Homo sapiens: one gene and its partners. The protein of the gene in region 2 purifies or fractionates together with the protein of the main gene of each other region. This does not show direct contact. Each region holds a gene or a part of one and is shown on either strand. Other genes may lie near its edges.

The links. Proteins that work in one complex are often made in the same cells at the same time.
Region 1: the proteins of SMC1A (region 2) and PDS5A purify together in Homo sapiens (co-immunoprecipitation; 8 studies listed by BioGRID and IntAct, with this or other methods). This does not show direct contact.
Region 3: the proteins of SMC1A (region 2) and USP13 purify together in Homo sapiens (affinity purification with mass spectrometry; 5 studies listed by BioGRID and IntAct, with this or other methods). This does not show direct contact.

Annotation. Positions count from the first base shown.
Region 1 is NC_000004.12:39,974,903-39,982,336, reverse strand, and holds the start of PDS5A (sister chromatid cohesion protein PDS5 homolog A), read left to right. Parts: upstream 1-4,425; 5' UTR 4,426-4,880; intron 4,881-5,068; exon of another isoform or gene 5,069-5,089; intron 5,090-5,719; 5' UTR 5,720-5,759; coding exon 5,760-5,897; intron 5,898-7,434. UniProt on the Homo sapiens protein: Probable regulator of sister chromatid cohesion in mitosis which may stabilize cohesin complex association with chromatin. May couple sister chromatid cohesion during mitosis to DNA replication.
Region 2 is NC_000023.11:53,405,655-53,412,677, forward strand, and holds part of SMC1A (structural maintenance of chromosomes protein 1A), read right to left. Parts: intron 6,600-7,023; coding exon 6,341-6,599; intron 6,248-6,340; coding exon 6,107-6,247; intron 3,850-6,106; coding exon 3,767-3,849; intron 3,616-3,766; coding exon 3,408-3,615; intron 303-3,407; coding exon 117-302; intron 112-116; exon of another isoform or gene 19-111; coding exon 1-18. UniProt on the Homo sapiens protein: Involved in chromosome cohesion during cell cycle and in DNA repair. Central component of cohesin complex. The cohesin complex is required for the cohesion of sister chromatids after DNA replication.
Region 3 is NC_000003.12:179,740,026-179,747,048, forward strand, and holds part of USP13 (ubiquitin carboxyl-terminal hydrolase 13), read left to right. Parts: intron 1-221; coding exon 222-347; intron 348-2,171; coding exon 2,172-2,325; intron 2,326-5,017; coding exon 5,018-5,192; intron 5,193-7,023. UniProt on the Homo sapiens protein: Deubiquitinase that mediates deubiquitination of target proteins such as BECN1, MITF, SKP2 and USP10 and is involved in various processes such as autophagy, endoplasmic reticulum-associated degradation (ERAD), cell cycle progression or DNA damage response.

The DNA.
Region 1 (7,434 bases), on a different chromosome or scaffold from region 2:
ATGCCTCAGCCTCCCAAGTAGCTAGGACTACAGGTGTGCGCCACCCCACCAGGCTAATTTTTGCATATATATATATATGCAAATATATATATATATATTAGTAGAGATGAGGTTTTGCCATGTTGGTCAGGAGCTCTAGAATTTGTATATAGAAGGAGCTGTAGTGAAATTGGGGGTTAGGGGTTTGTCCTCAAATTGCATTGGACGCAATTTTGTACATAGATTATATAACTGAATGTATGTGTGAGGGGGACACTGATTGAAATTATGTGGGAGGTAGAATAAAGACTCACAAAGCCACCCCTTTGTGCAATTATTAACCACATAAAACTCTTTGATTTTTTTATTTTATTTTATTAAAAAAAATTATGTAGAGCTTAGTATATGCGAGTTACTATTCTAGGCATTTTACAAATATTAACTTATGGCCAGGCGCAGGGGCTCACACCTGTAATCTTAGCACTTTGGGAGGCCAAGGCGGGCGGATCACCTGAGGTCGGGAGTTCAAGAGCAGCCTGGCCAACATGGTGAAATCCCATCACACTAAAAATACAAAAAATTGCTGGGCATGGTGGTGCGTGCCTGTAATCACAGCTACTAGGGAAGCTGAGGCAAGAGAATCACTTGAACCTGGGAGGCAGAGGTTGCAGTGAGCCGAGACTGCAACACTGCACTCCAGCCTGGGCGACAGAAAAAAAAATTAAGTTATGTATTCCTCATAATGATCATGTGAGGAAGATACTATCATTATCCTTGTTTTACAGATGAAGAAAATGAGGCACAGAAGAATTAAGTGGTTTGACCAACATTGCCTAACTCAGGACATACATCATATCACCTCTTTGCTTAAAACAGTCCATTAGTTCCCCACCTCAATCAGAGGATAGCCACAGTCTTACCAGAGGTCTAAAAGGCTACATGTGATCTGTACTCTCTCTCACTCCAGGGAGTCTCACTCTGTCGCCCAGGCTGGAGTGCAGTGGTGCTTTCTCAGCTCGCTGCAACCTCCATCTCCCCGGTTCAAACGATTCTCCTGCCTCAGCCTTCTTAGTAGCTGGGATTACAGACATGTGCCAGTGCGCCTGCCTAATTTTTGTATTTTTAGTGGAGACAGGGTTTCACCATGTTGGTCAGGCTGGTCTGGAACTCCTGACCTCAGGTGATCCACCCACCTCGGCTTCCCAAAGTGCTGGGATTACAGTCCTGAGCCACCGTGCCTGAGCCACTGAGTCTAATTTTTTGTCTTTTTAATAGAGATGGGGTTTCACCATGCTGGCCAGGCTGGTCTGAAACTCGTGACCTCAAATAGTCTGCCTGCCTCCCCCTCCCAAAGTGCTGGGATTACAGGTGCGAGCCACCGTGCCCAACTCTTCCCTACTTTATTTTCATATACATGTATTATTGTTATTTTGGTCTATTTCTCCCCAAACAAATTAAGGTCCACCAGGAGGGCAGGCCTTCATTTGTGAAACAATTATTTAAAGAGGCCTATAATATAAGGCATTGTTTTGGGCACTGAGCGGGGAAGAAAAGCTTGGTGGAGGTTGGGTGCAGTGGCTCATGCCTGTAATTCCAGCACTTTGGGAGCCCAAGGTGGGTGGATCACCTAAGGTCAAGAGTTCGAGACCAGGCTGGCCAACATGGTAAAACCCTGTCTCTACTAAAAGTACAAAAATTAGCCAGGCGTGGTGGCGCATGCCTGTAGTCCCAGATCTTGGGAGGCTGACGCAGGAGATCTGCTTGAACCCAGGAGGCGTAGGTTGCAGTGCGCCCAGATTGTACCACTGCACTCCAGCCTGGGCAACAGAGCAAGACTTCGTCTCGAAAAAATAAAATAGGCCAGGCGCAGGGGCTCACACCTGTAATCCCAGCACTTTGGGAGGCCGAGGCGGGCAAATCACGAGGTCAGGAATTCGAGATCAGCCTGGCCAATATGGTGAAACTCCATCTCTACTAAAAATATAAAAATAAGCTGGGCGTGGTGGTGTACGCCTGTAGTCCCAGCTACTTGGGAGACTGAGGCAGATGAATCGCTTGAACCTGGGAGGCAGAGGTGAAGTGAACCGAGATCGCACCACTGCACTCAAGCCTGGTGATAGAGTGAGACTCCATGTTAAAAAAAAAAAAAAAGAAATCAACCAGTAAGGCCAGGCACGGTGGCTCAAGCCTGTAATCCCAGCACTTTGGGAGGGTGAGGCGGGCAGATTACCTGAGGTCAGGAGTTTGAGACCAGCCTGACCAACATGGTGAAACCCTGTCTCTACTAAAAATAACAAAAATTAGCCGGGCATAGTGGCGGGCGCCTGTAATCCCAGCTACTTGGGAGGGTGAGGCAGGAGAATTGCTTGAACCCAGAAGTCAGAGGTTGTAGTGAGCCAAGATCACACCACCACACTCCAGCCTGGGCGACAGAGGGAGACTCTGTCTCAAAAAAAAATTAGCCCGGTATGGTGGCACACACCTGTAGTCCCAACTACTTGGGGGCCTGAGGCACAAAAGTCGCTTGAACCTGGGAGGCGGATGCTGTAGTGAGCCGAGATCATGCCACTGCACTGCAGTCTGGGCGACAAAGTGAGACTTCATCTCAAAAAATAATAAAATAATATAAAAAATAAATAAAATAAAATATATGTACATATACAAAACTCCATTTAATAATGGGCAAGCTACTGAGGAGGATGAAAGATAAAATCATTGTTGTTTAATTAAATGTAACACACAAAGAAATATCAAATTTGGCCGGGCGCGGTGGCTCATGCCTGTAATCCCAGCACTCTGGGAGGCCGAGGCGGGCGGATCACTAGCTCAGGAGATCGAGACCATCCTGGCTAACATGGTGAAACCCCGTCTCTACTAAAAATACAAAAAAAAAAAATTAGCCGGGCGTGGTGGCGGGCGCCTGTAGTCCCAGCTACTCGGAAGACTGAGGCAGGAGAATGGCGTGAACCCGGGAGGCAGAGCTTGCAGTGAGCCGATATCACGCCACTGCACTCCAGCCTGGGTGACAGAGTAAGATTCCGTCTCAAAAGAAAAAAATAAATATCAAAAGTGACAGGGAGAGCCTAAAAAGAGAGCAGCTTTTGGTCCACTTAATAGTTTGGATGAGGACACTTTTAAATGGATTCTGCCTGGTACTGTAAATGCCCAAGAACAAAGCATTGACTTTTGGGCAGAGTTCTAGCAAATCAGCAACTGTGGAGTGTCAGATTCGCAATGACTGCTCTTGTGTAATACGTCAAAAACAAGTCAGTGAGCTGAAATGCAGTACCTTTACTATTTTTAAGTTGACGTTAAAGGATGTGGGAAAAAAATAGACCAATGGGTACCCATCAAGAATAATTTGAATAAACAATCGAATATCATTTTAAACTATGGTAGTGGTCAGTTTCAAGAGCTGAATGTGATTTCATATTATCGTATCCTTTTTTCAACTTTCTCTTCGGAAATTTTGTGTATGCTCTTGATTTTTTTTAAATAGGTAAGTGTATGTTCTTGCGTTAATTTGTTTCAATTACATACATTAAATTGCTCAAACACTGCTGCGTGCACTGTTTTTACCTGATAGTGGTTTTCCTTTGGATGACAGAAAACGTTAATGCTTGGTAGGTTTAAAACATTTTTAAAAAATGAGCTCTTCCTTATTTACAAGAATCACCCACCCAATTAATAAATGCTTATTTCTGGGTTCCACTCTCAGAGATTTTTATGTTTATGTATATTTTTATATTTTTTAGTGTTTTATTTTATATGTTATATTTTTATATGTTTTATGTTCATATATATTTTTACGTTAAAAAAACATATATTTTTATGTTTTTTAATCTTTGGAGTTGGAAACCTACGTTTTCAGCCAGTACCCAAAGTGATTGTGAGGCCTGGTGGCCCAAAGACCATACCTTGAGAACGACTCGACCCAATGCTATTTTCATGTTTTGCAGCTTTCAAAATATTAACTTCAGAAATCTAAGGAGGGTGGGCAACTCGGGTGGCTGTCAGAAGACCCGAGAGTGAGCCGCTCACGCTGCGCCCCATTGCACAACTTTCCTTGACTTTGCAGATCTCTCCCTGAGGAGGAAATCAGTTCATTTTCACCGAGCAATTAACTACCTCCCAACCAGTTTCGTCTATGTCCCTCAGGATGACCCCCAAAAGTCACCAGCTCATCGCCGCTGCGAAAGATAAAGCACTGTTTGCCCTGCGTGCCCTCGCAAGGCCGCGGGAACCTGGGCTCGCTTCCCGCCACCCGGGCTCCTCCTCCTCTCGCCCTCTCCGGTCGGGTCCTCCGGGAGGCGCCCCGCGCGGCAGGTATTGGCGCCAACCGGGTGGCGGCGCTGTCCGCCCTGCGCGCGGCCGCCTCGGGCCCGAGGGAGGCGGATGCACGGCCGGCGGAGGAAGGGGAGGGAGCGAGGAGCGCGCGCTGCTCTCGCGTGCTCTCGCGCCGCTCGCGTGACCGGCCGGTGTGTGCGCGAGGCCCCGGCTCCCGGGGCACGGACGGCCGGGCGCGCGCCTCTGCGAGGGGCGTCCGGGTCCGAGTCGGCGGTCCGGGCCGGCGCGAGGTGCGTGCGGGCGGGCCGCGGGGGTCCCGGACGGACACAAGCGCACACACTCCCGGAGGAGCCTTCGAGGCTGCTCTTCCTCGGCCAGACGGAGAGCGGCACTGTCTCCCCGCCCAGCGCTCACTCGCCCCGCGTCTCCCCCCGCGGCGGCTGCTCCTCCTCGGCACCGCCAGCCCCAGCGCCGCTCCCGGGCGGGCGGGCGGCGGCGGCGGCGGCGGCGGGACCCGCGGAGCCGCTTTGTGTGCAGCCCGACTAGGGGCGGCGGCGCAACCACCTGACAGAGGCCCGGGCGCTCGATGCACCTTCCGCCCGCATGAGGAGGAGGTAAAGGCGGCGGCGGCTCGGCTCCCGCCCTAGGCTGCTGGAGGGAGGGGACGGAAGGGGAGACTGGAGGGGGGGGCCGCGGGTCCGAGGCCCGGTGGGGCCGCCCGAGGGTGCCGGGAAGGCCTCGGCGGTGCCGGAGGCGCCAAGCGGCCGGGGGCCAGAGAAGCAGCTGGGGTCCCTCAGCCGAAGTTGAAGGAACAAAATGTGAAGTGCGGAGGCGCGTCAGCCGCTTCCTGGCGTGGGGCTGAGGGTGGAGGGCGGCTTGTTTTCCCCTCCCGCGGGGGTGAGGGAGCGGAACAGGGGAGGGGTGGCAGCGCGGCGGGGACTACCCCGGGTCCGAGGCTCGGCTGGGCAAGGGCGTTTTGTTCCCGGCAGCCGCCGCTGCGCGTGGGTCCGCTGGGTCCCTAGTTTTGCGGCCTAAGCCGAGCCCTATAGGCCTCGGGTCTGGTTTCCCGGAGGGGACTGGCCGGGCGGGACTGGGTGCTTCCCCACCGCCGAGCGGGGGCCTTGGGGTCCTTGCCGGCCTCCCGGGGCCGCCAAACTTCGGACCCTGGTGCTCGGGGGTGGATTTCATTGTGAAAGGCGGAATGGGAAACTCCTGGCGCTGTTCGGCGGCCACGGCGGCTGGTGCGGAGGAGCCCCGTGAGCCTGGGGCTGGCAGGGCCGGGTTGGCGGGGCCGGCGGGGTTCGATCCCTGGGAAAGAGCGGGTGGCGAGGCCGCTGCCGGGTCCCCGGCCTCTGGGGAGACAGGGCCTTTTCCAGATTAGAGAGATTTGAAATGAAAAAAGAGGTTACAAAGTCGCCCCTTTCCCGCTGAACTTTGGTTTTCTGACCGATAGAGGCCGGTAGAGGACTGTGAACCAAAAGTTGTCCCCCAGGATGGACTTCACCGCGCAGCCCAAGCCTGCCACTGCCCTCTGTGGCGTCGTGAGTGCCGACGGGAAGATCGCTTACCCTCCGGGGGTAAAAGAGATCACCGACAAGATCACCACGGACGAGATGATCAAACGCCTGAAGGTAAGTGTCTGGACGGATTTTGATGTCTTTGGTAGAAGGCGCTTTCTCCTGTGATACTGCTACCCTGCTCAGTCTGGCCTTTAAAGTTCCAAGTTTTTTAGATCTCTTACCCCCTCTGAAAGGTACTGTTGTATCTCAGATAACATCTTTGAGTGAGTTTTGTAGGGATATAACCATTGTGGGAAATTTAAAAGGAGTGTGATTTTTCAAAAACTTACTGGTTTTCAAGCATAAGAATTTGTGTTTTTAGAGTTTTTTCTGGAGGTATTTAATGAGAATACTGTTCAGAGTGGCTTGCAAACTTAGGTGTAGGCAGTAATTTGCCTAAGAAGTTTACTATTTTCAGCTTCTGAAGGGGATTGATTAAAGCGCAAAGTCCTTTTTAAAAATTTGCATAATTTTCTATATCCAGAAGCTTAAATATGTATATATGGTGGTTAAACTTTGACAGAAGGTACAGACTTTTCATAATTCAGGCTTAAAGTAAGATGATTTAAGTCTATACGTTCAAAGGAGTTTAAGAGTATTATGGCCCTTTTTATGAGGTGTCAGCTAATTTTGTTTAAGCATGGCAGTCCTAAGGTTAAGGTTTTAAATTTCAACCTCATGTTTGTTAGTTTTTTTGGTTTCTGTTCCACTGACATAGATTGTGGCCAGAATCTTAACAAATAAGTAATATTCTTCTTGTAGGAACAGCTTGAAGCAGTGGTTCTGAGTCAGGGCAACTTTGACCTCCAGGAGATGTTTGGCAATGCTGGAGACATTTTGGTTGTCACAATTGGTGCTAGATTGGAGTAGGGGAAGACCAGAGGCAGTGAGTCCGGCTAGGAAACTGTAAACAGTAGTCTAGGTGAAAGACGTTGAAATCTTCAGGTAGGGCTATGGCATTGGTAATAGTGACTAGGAAATGATTTAACAACTTTTCAGAGTTAGAATCAATCAGAATTGGTGGGAGGTGAGGGAAGCAACATTGTTGACAATGTTTCCACCTTGGGCCACTTGGCCAAATGTATTTTAGGGAATGAGCTTGGCCTCTTGCTCTTGGAGCCCAGTAAATGTACCTAATGTTGCATTTTAATGAGTACAGTATTTAAAATATTCCTGTGGTTTAGTTTTCAGACTCTTAATTTGGTTCTGCAATTTGTTGCCTTTTTGGAAGGAATAAGACAACAGTTCCTTTCATTAAAACAAATCTGTGTGCGGCGGCGGGATCTCAGCTCACTGCAACCTCCACTTCCCAGGTTCAAGCTATTCTGCCTCAGCCTCCCAAGTAGCTGGGACTACCAGCGTGTGCCACCACACCCGGCTAAATTTTTTTTTTTTTTTTTTTTTTGAGACGGAGTCTTGCTCTGTCACCTAGGCTGGAGTGCAGTGGCGCGTCTCGGCCCACTGCAACCTCCACCTCCCGGGTTCAAGCAATTCTGCCTCAGCCTCTCTAGTAGCTGGGATTACAGGTGCCTGCCACCACGCCCAGCTAATTTTTGTATTTTTAGTAGAGATGGGATTTCACTATGTTGGTCACTTTGGTCTCGATCTC
Region 2 (7,023 bases):
CTCATCTGTAGGCTTCACCTGTGGGGAGAAGCTCAGTCAGTGGCAGAACACAAACAGGGAGTACTAGAGGAGGGGCCCTTGAACACTGGCCTGACCCAATCCCCAACAAGCCTCACCTCCAGGTAGTCAAGAGGCAAGAAGGTCTCAGGCTCCCCACGCTGCTCCTTGATATACTGAATACAGTCCCGGCCTGTCTTCTCCGAGTCCACAATAATGGCATCCATGTTCTTGCCCAAAACCTTGGTTACAGCAATCTGATACTTCTTTTGTGTGGGCTGGCATAGGTCAATGAGGCGGCCGTACTGAGTAAAGTAGGAAGGGAAAACTGAAGTATGAAGCTTTTGGAAGCTGGCTCAGGAATCCTAATTCCCAGTATGGAAAGGGGGACAGACTAGAATCTATATCAGGAAGTGAATGCAACTGTATTGCCTAGTGGTTAAGATAACCCAATACCAAGCATGGTAGTGTGTGTTTGTAATCCTAGCTACTTGGGAGGTTGCAATGGGAGGACAGCTTAAGCCCAGGAGTTCAAGACCAGCCTGGGCAACATAATGAGACCCTGTCTCAAAACAAACAAAAAAGACAGCCCACTAGTTCTGTACCCATGCAACCCTACCCTATCTGAATGAGACTGTATGGACTGAGGAGGAGGCAATTGCAGACTAGCTTGCTGTGTGCACTCCAGATCAGCACAGTGGCCAATCCTAACGTCCCTTTGAAAGGTGGAAAAGTTTGGGTAAGAGAAGGGAGGTAAAGAAATGAATAAATGAGTTATGTAATGAGGGAAACTCAGTATTACATTAACACCTCAAAAGAGGTTCAGAGCAAGAGATGATATTGTCTCTTAGCACAATTATCCCAGATGCCTGAAAGTATGAAGCTATGTTTGCCGAGAACACTCCTGGTTTTGGAACCTAACAAGATTGAATAGAAGCCTGCAAACCTGAATGGCCTCACCCTAGGAGACATTTTTACATGACATGATCATGGACTAGACTAATTATTAATTAATGACTCAGTGGGATTCTAGTAATGTGCCAGTATCTTTCTACTCTTTTTTGGAGACGGAGTCTCACTCTGTTGCCCACGCTGAAGTGCAGTGGCGCAATCTTGGCTCACTGCAACCTCCACCTCCCAGGTTCAAGTGATTCTCCTGCCTTAGCCTCCCGAGTAGCTGGGATTACAGGTGCCCGCCACCATGCCCGGCTAATTTTTGTATTTTTAGTAGAGACGGGGTTTCACCATGTTGGCCAGGCTGATCTCAAACCCCTGACCTCCGATGATCTGCCCGCCTCGGCCTCCCAAAGTGCGAGGATTACAGGCGTGAGCTACCGCTCCCAGCATCTTTCTATTTATTACATGATTGTTCTGATGTAAGGGATCTGTGTTTGAAGATCAAAGTGGACTGTGGTTTTATGAAATATATATTTAGTCTTCTACCCGTGAGTTCCTGACACACAACTCCTAAAACCCTTAGAATCTCAGGAATGAGCAGTGTCTTTTGTATGTTAATGAGATGATTATGGCTGGAGGCCCATAGATAGCTTCTGGATAGGGGCTGGTTACCAGAAAGACCAAGGCAGGATTAGATTTGGGACTCTTAGCTCCACCCCTACAACCTTCAGGAGGGGAGAGGGGCTGAAGGTTGAACTGATCACCGATGGCTGATGATCTGATCAATCATGACTACATAATGAAGCCCCTGTGTGGGGGTACCTGGAGGGTGGCTTGCCCAGATTGGGCATGGAAGCTTCACATCTCTTCTCCCATACCTTGCCTTATGCATCCATCTGGCTGTTCTCTGTATCCTTTGTAATATCCTTCATAATAAATGGGTAAACATAAGTAAAACATTTTCCTGAGTTCTGTGAGCTGCACTAGTAAATTAATCGAACCCAGGGAGGGATTCTCGGGAACTGTAATTTATAGCAGGTCAGTCAGAACCACAAGTCACAACCTGAGACTTGCAATTGGCACCTGAAGTCTTGGACTGAGCCCCTAACCCACAGGATCTGATGCTATCTCCAGATAAATAGTGTCAGAGCTGAAGTGAATTATAGGTCACCCAGCTGGTGTCTGCTGGAGAATTGCTTGGTGTGTGAGGAAAAACCCCCACACTTCTGGTGTCAGAAGTGAAGTGTTGTGCTGGTTGTGAGAGTAGAAAAAACACTTTGGTTTTTTCCTATCTCACAGAAGAACACAGCCCCCATGCTATCAAGGAAAAGCCTATTCTGGTTCCCAAGCAATGACTTCAGGCAGTCGTGTCTGAATCCAGAATCATCTTTCTAAACCTCACATCTACCATTTTACAGACCACCACCACCCAGGCACTATGCCAAGTATCTTATATATATTATTTCAAATTCTCACAAGCACTTAGCAAAATAAATCTGGCTGGGCGTGGTGACTCACGCCTGTAACCCTACCACTTTGGGAGGCCGAGGCGGGCAGATCACTTGAGGTCAGGAGTTTAAAACCAGCCTGGCCAACATGGTGAAACCCCGTCTCTACTAAAAATACAAAAAAATTAGTTGGGCATGGCGGCGAGCACCTGTAATCTCAGCTACTTGGGAGGCTGAGGCAGGAGAATCACTTGAGCCTAGGAGGCAGAGATTGCAGTGAGCCGAGGTTGTGCCACTGCACTCCAGCCTGGGCGACAGAGCGAGACTCCATCTCAAAATCAATCAATCAATCAATCAATCTCTTCTACCAGTTCCCTTCCTGCAGCCTCCAAAACCAAGCCTGGTTCCCTAAGAACTATCAGATTAAGGGGGCAGGGACTGACTCTAACCATACTTATCTCCCCAGCAGTGTCTAGAGAAGTGATAGGGAAATATTAGTGGAACCAAACTAAGTTGAACCCAGGTATGGGATAATATTCAGGGAACCTGGGAACTCAGGATTTGGTGAAAGAGGCCAAAAGATCAAGAGATCTGATAAAGCTCAGGGTGTCCCTAAAAGCTACTGGACCAGTTAATACATGCCAAGGGAGCCCCTTTATAAGACTGCACAGAGCTACTTCCTGGGAGAGTAATTCCAGCCCCATGGCCCCACCTGCTTCCAAAATCTTTCCTGGTTTTCCAATTCCCCTCCCAGAGGCATAGACATAGCAAGACAAAACCTTCAGAAAGACGCAATTGGTATGATGAAAAGAACATGATTGCCTAGTATGACAGGTTGAAAAATAAAAAAAAAAAAAAAAAAAAAAGAACATGAGCTCAGGAGAACAAGTTGGGTTTGAACTGCAGTTCTTCCTCTTAGAAGCGGTGCTTTTTTAAACCTCTCCGAGCCTCATTTCCCCCAACAATAAAAATGGGATTGGCAACCCTGTCCTTACAGGGCTGCTGGGAAAATCGTGTGACAGTGAGTGTAAGTGCTCAGGAAATGAGTTCCCTCTCTGCTCTTACCACAGAGCCAGGGTAAAGGCGCTTGATGCTTTCCATTATCTCTGCCTTTCGCTGCTGGCGGCTGCTCTCCTGGCGGTCGATGCGGGCATCCCCTAGCTGCTCCATCACCTGGTTCAGCTCCTTATTGATTTCATCAATACGCCGCTTGGCCATCTCCACCTCCTCTGTCAGCTCCCCCTCTAGCTTCTTCTGCTCTTCTAGGGACTGCCTACAAAGTGAGGGCACACAGGAGTTACTCCTGCTGGTGAGAAAATACTCCTGGCTCAGAGAGCTCTGGGGGTCCTGCATGAAGAGGGGCATGTAGGTAGGGTCACAAGAACAGGCCTGGAAGTAAGGGGGACAGATGCAGAGCTACATACTTGCTAGTGGTGATGTATTCCTCCAGTTTCTCAATCCGCTTCTGATTCTCTTCAATTTCCCGCAGCTTTTGCTTGATCTTGGCCTGGGAAACAAACATTCCATCATCAGGGGCTGCACGAGTTTACGCCAAGACCATGGGGGCTCTAGATCACACCCTTTATGTGCCCACTCATCCAAGAGCCGAACAGTCCAGGACAATCTGTCACTAATATAGGAGGCCTACTAAAAAGCAGACATAGATGGTGTTCGGTTTGATCTACTAACTAATGATGGGGGCCTCCCAGAGCTCCAGAACCTCTCATAGGTGTTCTACCCAGCCAAGGCATCTTCTTCACCAACCATGGAGGCTCAAATCAAGATAAAGCTTCACAGGCCTTTCTGTACCTGTTTCCTCATCTGCAAAATGTGGGTAATCTCCACTGCATAGAATACACATTAAGTGCTTAATATAGGGTTGTTATTAATATTAATGACTATCACATTATTTTTAAAAAATTTTTATTATTTTTTAAAATTTGAGACAGGGTCTCACTGTGTTGCTCAGGCTGATCTCAAACTCCTGGCCTCAAGTGATCCACCACGCCTGGCCAACATTCTTTTAAATATTTAAAAGTGCTTAGCAGAATGCCTGAACACTGTACACTCCTGGGACACTATGACAACTTTCTATCATTGCTGTTATTACAATATTGATATCAGGGAGGCAGTAAGTAAAGTATATTTGGTAAGAGTGTGGGCTTTAGAGCTACAATGCCCAGGGTCTGGTTCTGATACTTAATAGTTATGTGAGTGGCCGGGCACGGTGGCTCGCGCCTGTAATCCCAACACTTTGGGAGGCCAAGGCAGGCTGATCGCAGAGGCAGGCAGGAGTTTAAGACCAGCCTGGGCAACAAGCAGAAACCCTGACTCTATAAAAATTAAAAAATTAGGAGGCCGAGGCGGGCGGATCACTTGAGTTCGGAAGTTCAAGACCAGCCTGGTCAACATGGTGAAATCCCATCTCTACTAAAACTACAAAAAATTTAGCCAGGTGTGGTGGCACCCACCTGTCATCCCACCTACACGGGTGGCTGAGACACAAGAATCACTGGAACCGGGCTGGGTGCGTTGGCTCACACCTGTAATCCCAGCACTTTAGGAGGCCAAGGCGGGTGGATCACCTGAGGTCAGGAGTTCGAGACCAGCCTGACCAACAAGGTGAAACCCCGTCTCCACTAAAAATACAAAAATTAGCCGGGAATGGTGGCTGGTGCCTGTAATCTCAGCTACTTGGGGAGGCTGAGGCAGGAGAATTGCTTGAACTTGGGAGACAGAGGTTGTAGTGAGCCGAGATGGCACCATTGCACTCCAGCCTGGGCAACAAGAGAGAAACTGCGTCTCAAAAAACAATAAAAATAAAAATAAAAAAATAAAAAGAATCACTTGAACCCGACAGGCAGAGGTTGCAGTGAGCTGAGATCATGCCACTGCACTCCAGCCTGGGCAACAGAGTGAGGCTTTGTCTCAAAAAAAAAAAAAAAAAAAGTAGCCAGGCATGGTGGCAAGCACAAGTAATGCTGGATACTCAGGAGGCTCTGGTTGGAAGATTGCTTAAGCCTGGGAAGTCGAAGCTGCAGTGAGCCATGGTCGCACCACTGCACCTCAGCCTGCATGACAGAGAAAGACTCTGTCTCAAAAATAACAATAATCTTGTGACCTTAGGCAAATTACTCTGTGTTGTAATTTCCTCATTCATAAAATAGGGTAATAGTAGCCATTCCATAAAGATAATAATAAATGAAGAATTAAATGAGTGGATACATGTAAAGAACATTGCCTATCATACAGTAAGTGCTCAACAGATGTGAGCTACTGTCATTATCATTGTCATTATCATTAAGATTATCATGGCCAGGCGCAGTGGCTCAAGCCTGTAATCCCAGCACTTTGGGAGGCCGAAGTGGGTGGATCACAAGGTCAGGAGCTCGAGACCAGCCTGGCCAACGTAGTGAAACCCTGTCTCTACTAAAAATACAAAAATTAGTTGGACATGGTGGCGCACGCCTGTAGTCCCAGCTACTCAGGAGGCTGAGGCAGGAGAATTGCTTGAACCCGGGAGGCAAAGGTTGTGGTGAGCTGAGATCACATCACTGCACTCCAGCCTGGGCAAGAGCGAAACTCTGTCTCAAAAAAACAAAAAAACAAAAAAAAAGACTATCATTACAGGTTGGGTAACTCTAATCCAAAATGCTTAGGACCGGAAACGTTTCAGATTTTGGATTATTTTGGATTTGGGATGCTCAACCTATATATATCCTTTTCTGTGGACCATCATCCCTAATCTTATAACTATAGCCCACCTCTGTCTCTACTTTCTTCCGTTCTTCCAGATCCAGACGGTCCTGGTCAGCTTTCTGGTCTCGATTGAATTTCTCCAGCTCCTGGGCCAGGGTAGCTGCTCTCTTGCTGGCTTCTTCTTTCAACCGGTGGTATTTCTTCACCTGTGTTAGGGACAGGGAAGGAGAACAGGGATGACCAAGTCAGCAGATGTCAGCCCAGGGATCTCCTCCCTGCCAACCCCTTCCAGAGCTTACCTGATTCTCCTCCAACGTCAAATCTCTGCCCTGACTCTGACTCTCTTCTTCCATCCGTTCTTCAAACTCCTGCCGAGCCTTCTCCACTGACAGCATCTCCTTCTCCAGCTCATCCATGTCACCTTTACGCTTCTTGTAGTGCTTCTGAGCATTCTGCAGAGACTTCTTGGCTGCTTCCAGCTTCTTGATTTTGTGGGAGGTGTTCTCCTTGGCTTTGATGTACTGAGGCCGCTTCTGGTTCAATTCTGAGTCCTTCTCCCTTTTGCCAGAGGGGTGGGGGAAACCAGTGAGAACTATGGAAGAAGGGAGGGTTCCCAGGCTTTTCACCCAAAGGAGAGCTTGAGCCCCTGAGCCAACCTCAGGGAATTACTTAAAAGAACATGGGCGTAATGCCCCACAGATCCTGAAAAAAAGGGGCAGTCTGACTACTCCCTGAAAGGTATGACTTCAGCCTGGCATTCCAGCCACTCCATAAGGCAAAGCTACCAACTCTGCCTCAACCCTGGCCAGGAAGCTCATTAACAACTCCCAAGAACATCCTGTATTTACTTAGTTGGCCCCTCAAATTCCTATCCTTTAAACTTCTAGCTTCAGTTTCCTCTTCTAGGAAGGCCTTCTCAGCCACTCCATTGGCTCGGCCTCACATTGGTTCCTCTTTCTTGGCAAGGCCACCACCCCTTTTG
Region 3 (7,023 bases), on a different chromosome or scaffold from region 2:
CAGGAAGAGTCTCATCCTGTGTTCTTCATAAGGTTCATAGTGCAGGGCCTGGCACATAGTAAACACCCAGCGAGTATTGGCCACTATCATTATTTACCTTCTTTGGGCTGTAGTTTTCTCATCTGGAAAGTGGAGTTTATGGTGGGTTCTGCTCTGCTTGCCGCTTAGGGCTGTTAATTTGCATGAAAGTATCATAAGTCCATTTCATTTTTATACATTAGCCACAGCAGAACGGGATCTCTCCGCGCATGTTTAAGGCCTTTGTAAGCAAGAGCCACCCGGAATTCTCCTCTAACAGGCAGCAAGATGCCCAGGAATTCTTCTTGCACCTGGTGAATCTAGTAGAGGTGAGTAGTCAGTCTTCACGGATGCTCAGCGGGGTTGTAAGAGGGTGCCGAGCCACTCAGTGCAGTCTGCTGTGGCTTGATCAGAATGCCTCCCCACTCTCTTTCTTCAATCTCTCCTGTTAAAGCTGGTTCAGAATCAGATCCCTGGAAACTCTCTGCTCAGCCAACTTGATGTGACTGCTCTTCACACTCCAGTTTCCAGACACTTGTGGATCTCTGTGCTTCTTTTAACCTGTATGTGTTATAGGAGTGCTTGCCAGTTATTCCATTCACAATTTATTTTTTTCTGGTCTTTGTGACAAAGTTCCTTAAGAGCCCTGCGTGGTATTTGGTGTCCTCCTGCCACTGCTCAAAGATGATGAGTCTGCTTACATCAGAATCGAATGCCATTAAAAACTTTTTTTTTTTTTTTGAGACTGAGTCTAGCTCTGTTGCCCAGGCTAGAGTGCAGTGGCACAATCTTGGCTCACTGCAACCTCTGCCTCCTGGGTTCAAGCAATTCTACTGCCTCAGCCTCCTGAGTAGCTGGGATTATAGGAGCCTGCCACCACGCCCGGCTAATTTTTGTATTTTTAGTAGAGATGGGGTTTCACCATGTTGGTCAGGCTGGTTTTGAACTCCTGACCTTGTGATCCACCCGCCTCGGCCTCCCAAAGTGCTGGGATTACAGGTGTGAGCTGGAAAGCCACTGAGAATTCCTGAGTAAAGCCTTTTTTTTTTTTCCTGGTTACAACAGTGTTCTTTGTGGAAAATATAGAAAACACAAAGGAGAACATCAAAATCCCCCTTAATGCCACGCCCTGCAGCCAGCCAGTGTTTTTTGTTTGTTTGTTTGTTTGTTTGTTTTTGTTTGTTTGTTTTTGACAGAGTCTTGCTCTTGTCGCCCAGGCTGGAGTGCAGTGGCACGATCTTGGCCCACTGCAACCTCCGCCTTGCAGGTTCAAGTGATTCTTCTGTTGTTTGTTTCCTTGTTAGAACTAGGCTGCAGTGGTTTCTCTTGTCTGCCTCAGGGTTACTGATTCACATGTCTGCTCAGGTCCATGATCTTTTCTAACTCTGTTTATCATTTATTAGTGATAACTTTTTTTTTTTAGAATAAAGCCTCCCGAGTAGCTGGGATTATAGGCACCCACTACCATGCCTGGCTAATTTTTTTGTATTTTTAGTAGAGACGGGGTTTCACCATGTTGGCCAGGCTGGTCTCGAACTCCTGACCTCAGATGATCCACCCGCCTCCGCCTCCCAAAGTGCTGGGATTACAGGCATGAGCCACTGTGCCCGGCCAACAGCCAGTGTTCACAGGTTGGCATCTGCCCCTCCCATCACTTTCCAGGTCTTATGTTAATTCTCTACATGCTCTTCTGTAAGCAGTGTTTTCACTTAAATGTTTGCCACATCATCACATCTGTTAACAGAGCATAATTTCTGTTTTATTTGTACCTAATTTACATGAGTGTATTTATATAATCATATTGTACATGTTTTTATGTTTCCAGGGCAGCCCTTTATTTTTTTCCCTTTCTCTTTTGATTGGCTTCTCCTCCTCCTTTCTTCTCATTCCATGAATTTCTCTCCCATGGTTTTTAATTTAATAATATTGAAATAGTAATCCATGATGAACTATATTTTATTTTACCAATCCCCATTTTTGGACTTTAGATAAATTCCAGTGTTTTTCTATTAAAGTGCTTTGGTGAATGGGCATGGCCAGAGGAAATGTTTAATAAAGCCAAGTGTTTACACCGGGTTTAGAGTTCATTTTCTACTAAGTCTTAGTGGCTCAATATTCATACATTTACTAACCTGATACAATCCATCCTTCAGAGGAACCGCATCGGCTCAGAAAACCCAAGCGATGTTTTTCGTTTTTTGGTGGAAGAACGCATTCAGTGCTGTCAGACCCGGAAAGTCCGCTACACGGAGAGGGTGGATTACCTGATGCAGTTACCTGTGGCCATGGAGGCGGCAACCAACAAGGGTAACAATTCCAAAGCGGGAAATTGGTACTGTGTGTCTTCATATGGGAAAACCCTCAAATCAGAGAGAATGGTTTAGTCACTGAAGTGTGTCAGGAGTAGACCCAGCCCAGGTGATGTCTGCTTTGCACATCTCTTTTCATCTCTTTGTTAGTTCCCATGTGACTTTTCCTTTGAGAAGAATCAAATGCATCACAGGTTTTATGGAGGCGTTATGGTTGGAACCTACGTCACTGCCTATAAATTTGGCCAACTACTGAATATGGAGTCAGCATAATTTTGGGGAAAATTATTGGTAATGATGTATGTAGAAAATTCTTTAACACTGTCATTTATAAGTTGTGCTATAAAGTCTGAGGGAAATGATCAGGACTGCATTTTTTAAAGTTAGACATTCGAGCAGAGGTCTCTTGAAATAATCCAGCTTTGGCACATGAGTATTTGAGCCACCTCTTCTGGGAGATAAATTGTGTCAGGGTTCTTTGTAGAAGCAAAGCCCATTAGAAGGGTCTCTGGGCTTTGGAAGAGAGAAGGAGGCAGAGATGTGGCACTCATGTTTGGTGCCTTCTCCTTCCATCAGTCTAAGCTGGTTCTTCCTAGGCAGAATAGACAAATGGCATTTCTTCGAATTAACATCGTAGAAGCAAAAAAGACAAAATAGCTGCTGGATTGTGCATCTCCTGTGAACTAGTCATTTTTGTAAAGTTCAGCAATTCCACTATGCAGCCATGAAAAGGAATGAGATCATGTCCTTTGCACATGGATGAAGCTGGAAGCCCTCATCCTCAGCAAACTAACACAGGAACAGAAACCAAACACCGCATATTCTCACTCATAAGTGCGAGTTGAACATTGAGAACATATGGACACAGGGAGGGGAACATCACACACTGAGGCCTGTTGGTGGGTGGGGGGAAAGGGGAGAGAACTTAGAGGACAGGTCAGTAGGTGCAGCAAACCGCCACGGCACACATATACTTATGTAACAGACCTGCACGTTCTACACATGTATCCTGGAGTTTTTTTGTTTTTTGTTTTTTTTTTTGAGAATAAAGAAAAAAAAATTCAGCGGTTCCCTGGATGGCCCTTTTTGCTCTTTCTTGTGTGTGGGGGGTGGTGGGTCAGTTTATGATGTTAGTTGGAAAGTGATGATTATGATGATTTAAGATGAAACGATTTTCATTTTCTATATGCTCATGCAGTTTTTGATCAGTTTCAAAATCCTTTTGGTGTAGAAACAAGGGAATGGGAGTCTGCTGTTTGTTTCCTTGTTAGAACTAGGCTGCAGTGGTTTCTCTTGTCCGCCTCAGGGTTACTGACTCACGTGTCTGCTCATGTCCATGATCTTTTTTTAACTCTGTTTATCATTTATTAGTGATAACTACTTTTTTTTTTCAGAAAGGAGATTTATAATTTAGTCTCTGGAATTTGACTGTTGGGAACACCTAATGTTAGCAACCTAGATATAAGTACATCATAAACTGATTGGGGACAGGGGAATGAATTTTAAACCATCTAAGATGTGTTTAGGAAAACACATATGTGCGTAAGTGTACCTACAAACTGATAAATAAGGAGTTTTTTTTTTTTTTTTTTTGAGTAATACAAAAGAAATGACCAGAAAGGCCATTCAAATTGACATAAAATTTTGACTACAGGCTAGTTTCCAGGACCAGATCTGCTGGTGCTTGGGAGGTTCCTCTTTTTCCCTTAGTATTTAATCATTTGAGTAGGAATAGCACAGAGGCCTTCTGGGTTGGTAGCCCTGATGTCTGAGGTGTTGGGTAACCTCCACAGGAAGTTGTCTCGGCAGTGTTGGTTACTGTCATGGGTTGTTTGATGGTGGCTAACTGCAGTCCTGTAGTTATCCTCCTCCTTGGCCTCACAGGGACCCATGTGGGACCCATGACCTCTAATCATAGTTGCTGGTGGAACCAAATCAGAAAATGTGTAACACTCGATCTGGCTCTTGCCAGGCGCTTAGTGGTGGTTCTGTTTTTTTTTTTGTTTTGTTTTGTTTTTTTCTGCCTTTGGTTATTTTATTTTAAAACAGCTTAAAGTTAACAAGAATGTTTTTGTTACTTTTGTGTATGTGTGTGTGATCATTGGCAAAAATTGATCCCCTTACACAATGTAACATCTCTTTCTGGCCTTATCTGTTGGGTTGTGGAGGGAGTGCTGATCAGAGTTTTAAGTCCAGCTTTGCCAATAATTGGCTGGTTTTGACTTTGGGCCTCAGTTCTTCAGCAAGGCAGTGAAGGACTGGGAAGACGTGAGCCCTTGGACCTTTTCTGGCTGTGAAATACTCTGATGCGAAGGCCTTGTGTTGGGAGGATGGCATTTGAATAATCCCAGTATTGGCCTTTGGACAAACCAGGTTCATGGGCATTTATATCACACACATGGTCTGGCCCTCTCACCCACCCAGGCCAGGCCAAGCTCACACTTCCCTCCTGTCAGTCGCAAAGGGGAGCATGCAAAAAGATGTAAATGGCTTGATACCACCTGTTGGTGCAACTCTAAAGACAGCCCCAGAACAGCCTTTCAGCAGGGGCATCTGGCTCTGTAAAGGGCGACAAATAAGCAACTCTGGCCCAGCGCAGAAGCCTTCAGGGAAGACTGTCCAAAGAGGGTGCTTTTCATTTCCACAGGGTAAGAGCGATTGCAAGGTCTTTGATTTGCTCTTTCACCCAGATGAACTGATCGCTTATGAACTAACGAGAAGGGAAGCAGAAGCAAACAGAAGACCCCTTCCTGAGTTGGTACGTGCCAAGATACCATTTAGTGCCTGCCTTCAGGCCTTCTCTGAACCAGAAAATGTTGATGATTTCTGGAGCAGTGCCCTACAAGCAAAGTCTGCGGGTGTGAAGTAAGTGTGTGTATATGTGGTGGCAGTGGGGTGAGGAGGGGCCTTGAGGGGTGGGGACAGGGGTAAGGGAAAGGGGGTGGGTGTTATTTGTGTCTGTGTGTGTTTGTTCATGTGTGATGGATGGGATTATGGTTCACACACCCTAACTGTCGTCAAACTTCACTTGTGTGAGACCTGTCCAATAAAACAGGCCTGTGATTTATATTACGTGCTAAGGAGGGGTTTTCTTTTTTCTTTTTTTAAATGTAAGGTTGTGATTTATTCTCTATTAGGAGCCTTCCTTCCTTCCTTCCTTCCTTTCTTTCTTCCTTTCTTCCTTCCTTCCTTCCTCCTTCCCTTCCTCCCAACCTTGACCCCACCCCCAGCCCCTCTCTTACCAAGAGGATACAGCCAAGAAACAATCCCCTACCCGCAAATGGCAAGAATGACATTATTCATGAAGAAATTACAAAAATGCTGAAGACAGGCCTCCATATTTAAACTCCATTGTGCTATATTTTAACTCCATAATTAAAGACTTAGTCTAGAACTTGGTTGGCTATGTTTCTCCTTGGAGACTAGGAGTCTCAGGACATCTCAAAGTGGACAGGAAGTCTCCTGAGCATTGTTGAAACGAGCCGCTCAGGGTTTAGTCAGATGTCTTGTTTTCACATTGTGAGGCTGGTTGTCAGACACATAAAAGTTTTTTTTTCTCCGTCTGCCACCCTAGTTGATTTGATGCAGTCGAGTCCTTGCCAACACACTTCATATCACTGCACTTAATTGGAAAAAGAGTGCTTGCAGTGGCATAAAACAAAGGGAGGTCTGAAAGTTTGGCTCCAGGAGTTTTGCTACGTTCAGATATTCTTTGGCCATTTTTCTTTGAGGCTAAGATTGAGATTTTGGCTAACATAAAGGGGATTAAAGGATGGAACGGCTGGTGTGGGCTGTTTTTACCATGGCCTCAATAGCAGTTCAACCTATATATATATATATAAAATTTTATATATAAAATGTATATATATAAAATTTTATATATATACATATAATATATATAAGTATTATATATATTTTTTAGAGGGAGTCTCGCTCTGTCACCCAGGCTGGAGTGCAGTGGCATGATCTTGGCTCACTGCAACCTCTGCCTCCCAAGTTCAAGCAATTCTCCTGTTTCAGCCTCCTGAGTAGCTGGGAATGCAGGCACATGCCACCAAGCCCGGCTAATTTTTGTATATTTTTTTTTGTTTTTTTTTGAGACGGAGTTTTGCTTTTGTTGCCCAGGCTGGAGTGCAGTGGCACAATCTCTGCTTGCCACAACCTACGCCTCCCAGGTTCAAGTGATTCTCCTGCCTCAGCTTCCCGAGTAGCTGGGATTACAGGCCTGTGCCACCATGCCCGGCTAGTTTTGTATTTTTAGTAGAGATGGGGTTTCTCCATGTTGGTCAGGCTGGTCTCGAACTCCCAACCTCAGGTGATCCTCCCTCCTTGGCCTCCCAAAGTGCTGGATTACAGGCATGAGCCACCGCACCCAGCCAATTTTTGTTTTTTTAGTGGAGACAGGGTTTCACTATTTAGCCAGGCTGATCTGGAACTCCTGACCTCAGGTGATCTGCCCTCCTCAGCCTCCCAAAGTGCTGGGATTACAGGCATGAACCACCATGTCCGGCCTCAACCTATATTATTTGTTCTCTGTGAAACCCCTCCCTCAGGCTTCTGCTATGTTTCAGATTGTAGAGTTCATATGTTAAAAACAGGAAAGCAAAAACAATTTATTTCAAAAAGGAAAAACAAGCCATATTTGTTAAAATTATTTTTAAAAAGCTCCCTATCCAAGGGAGATTAATAGTAGTTC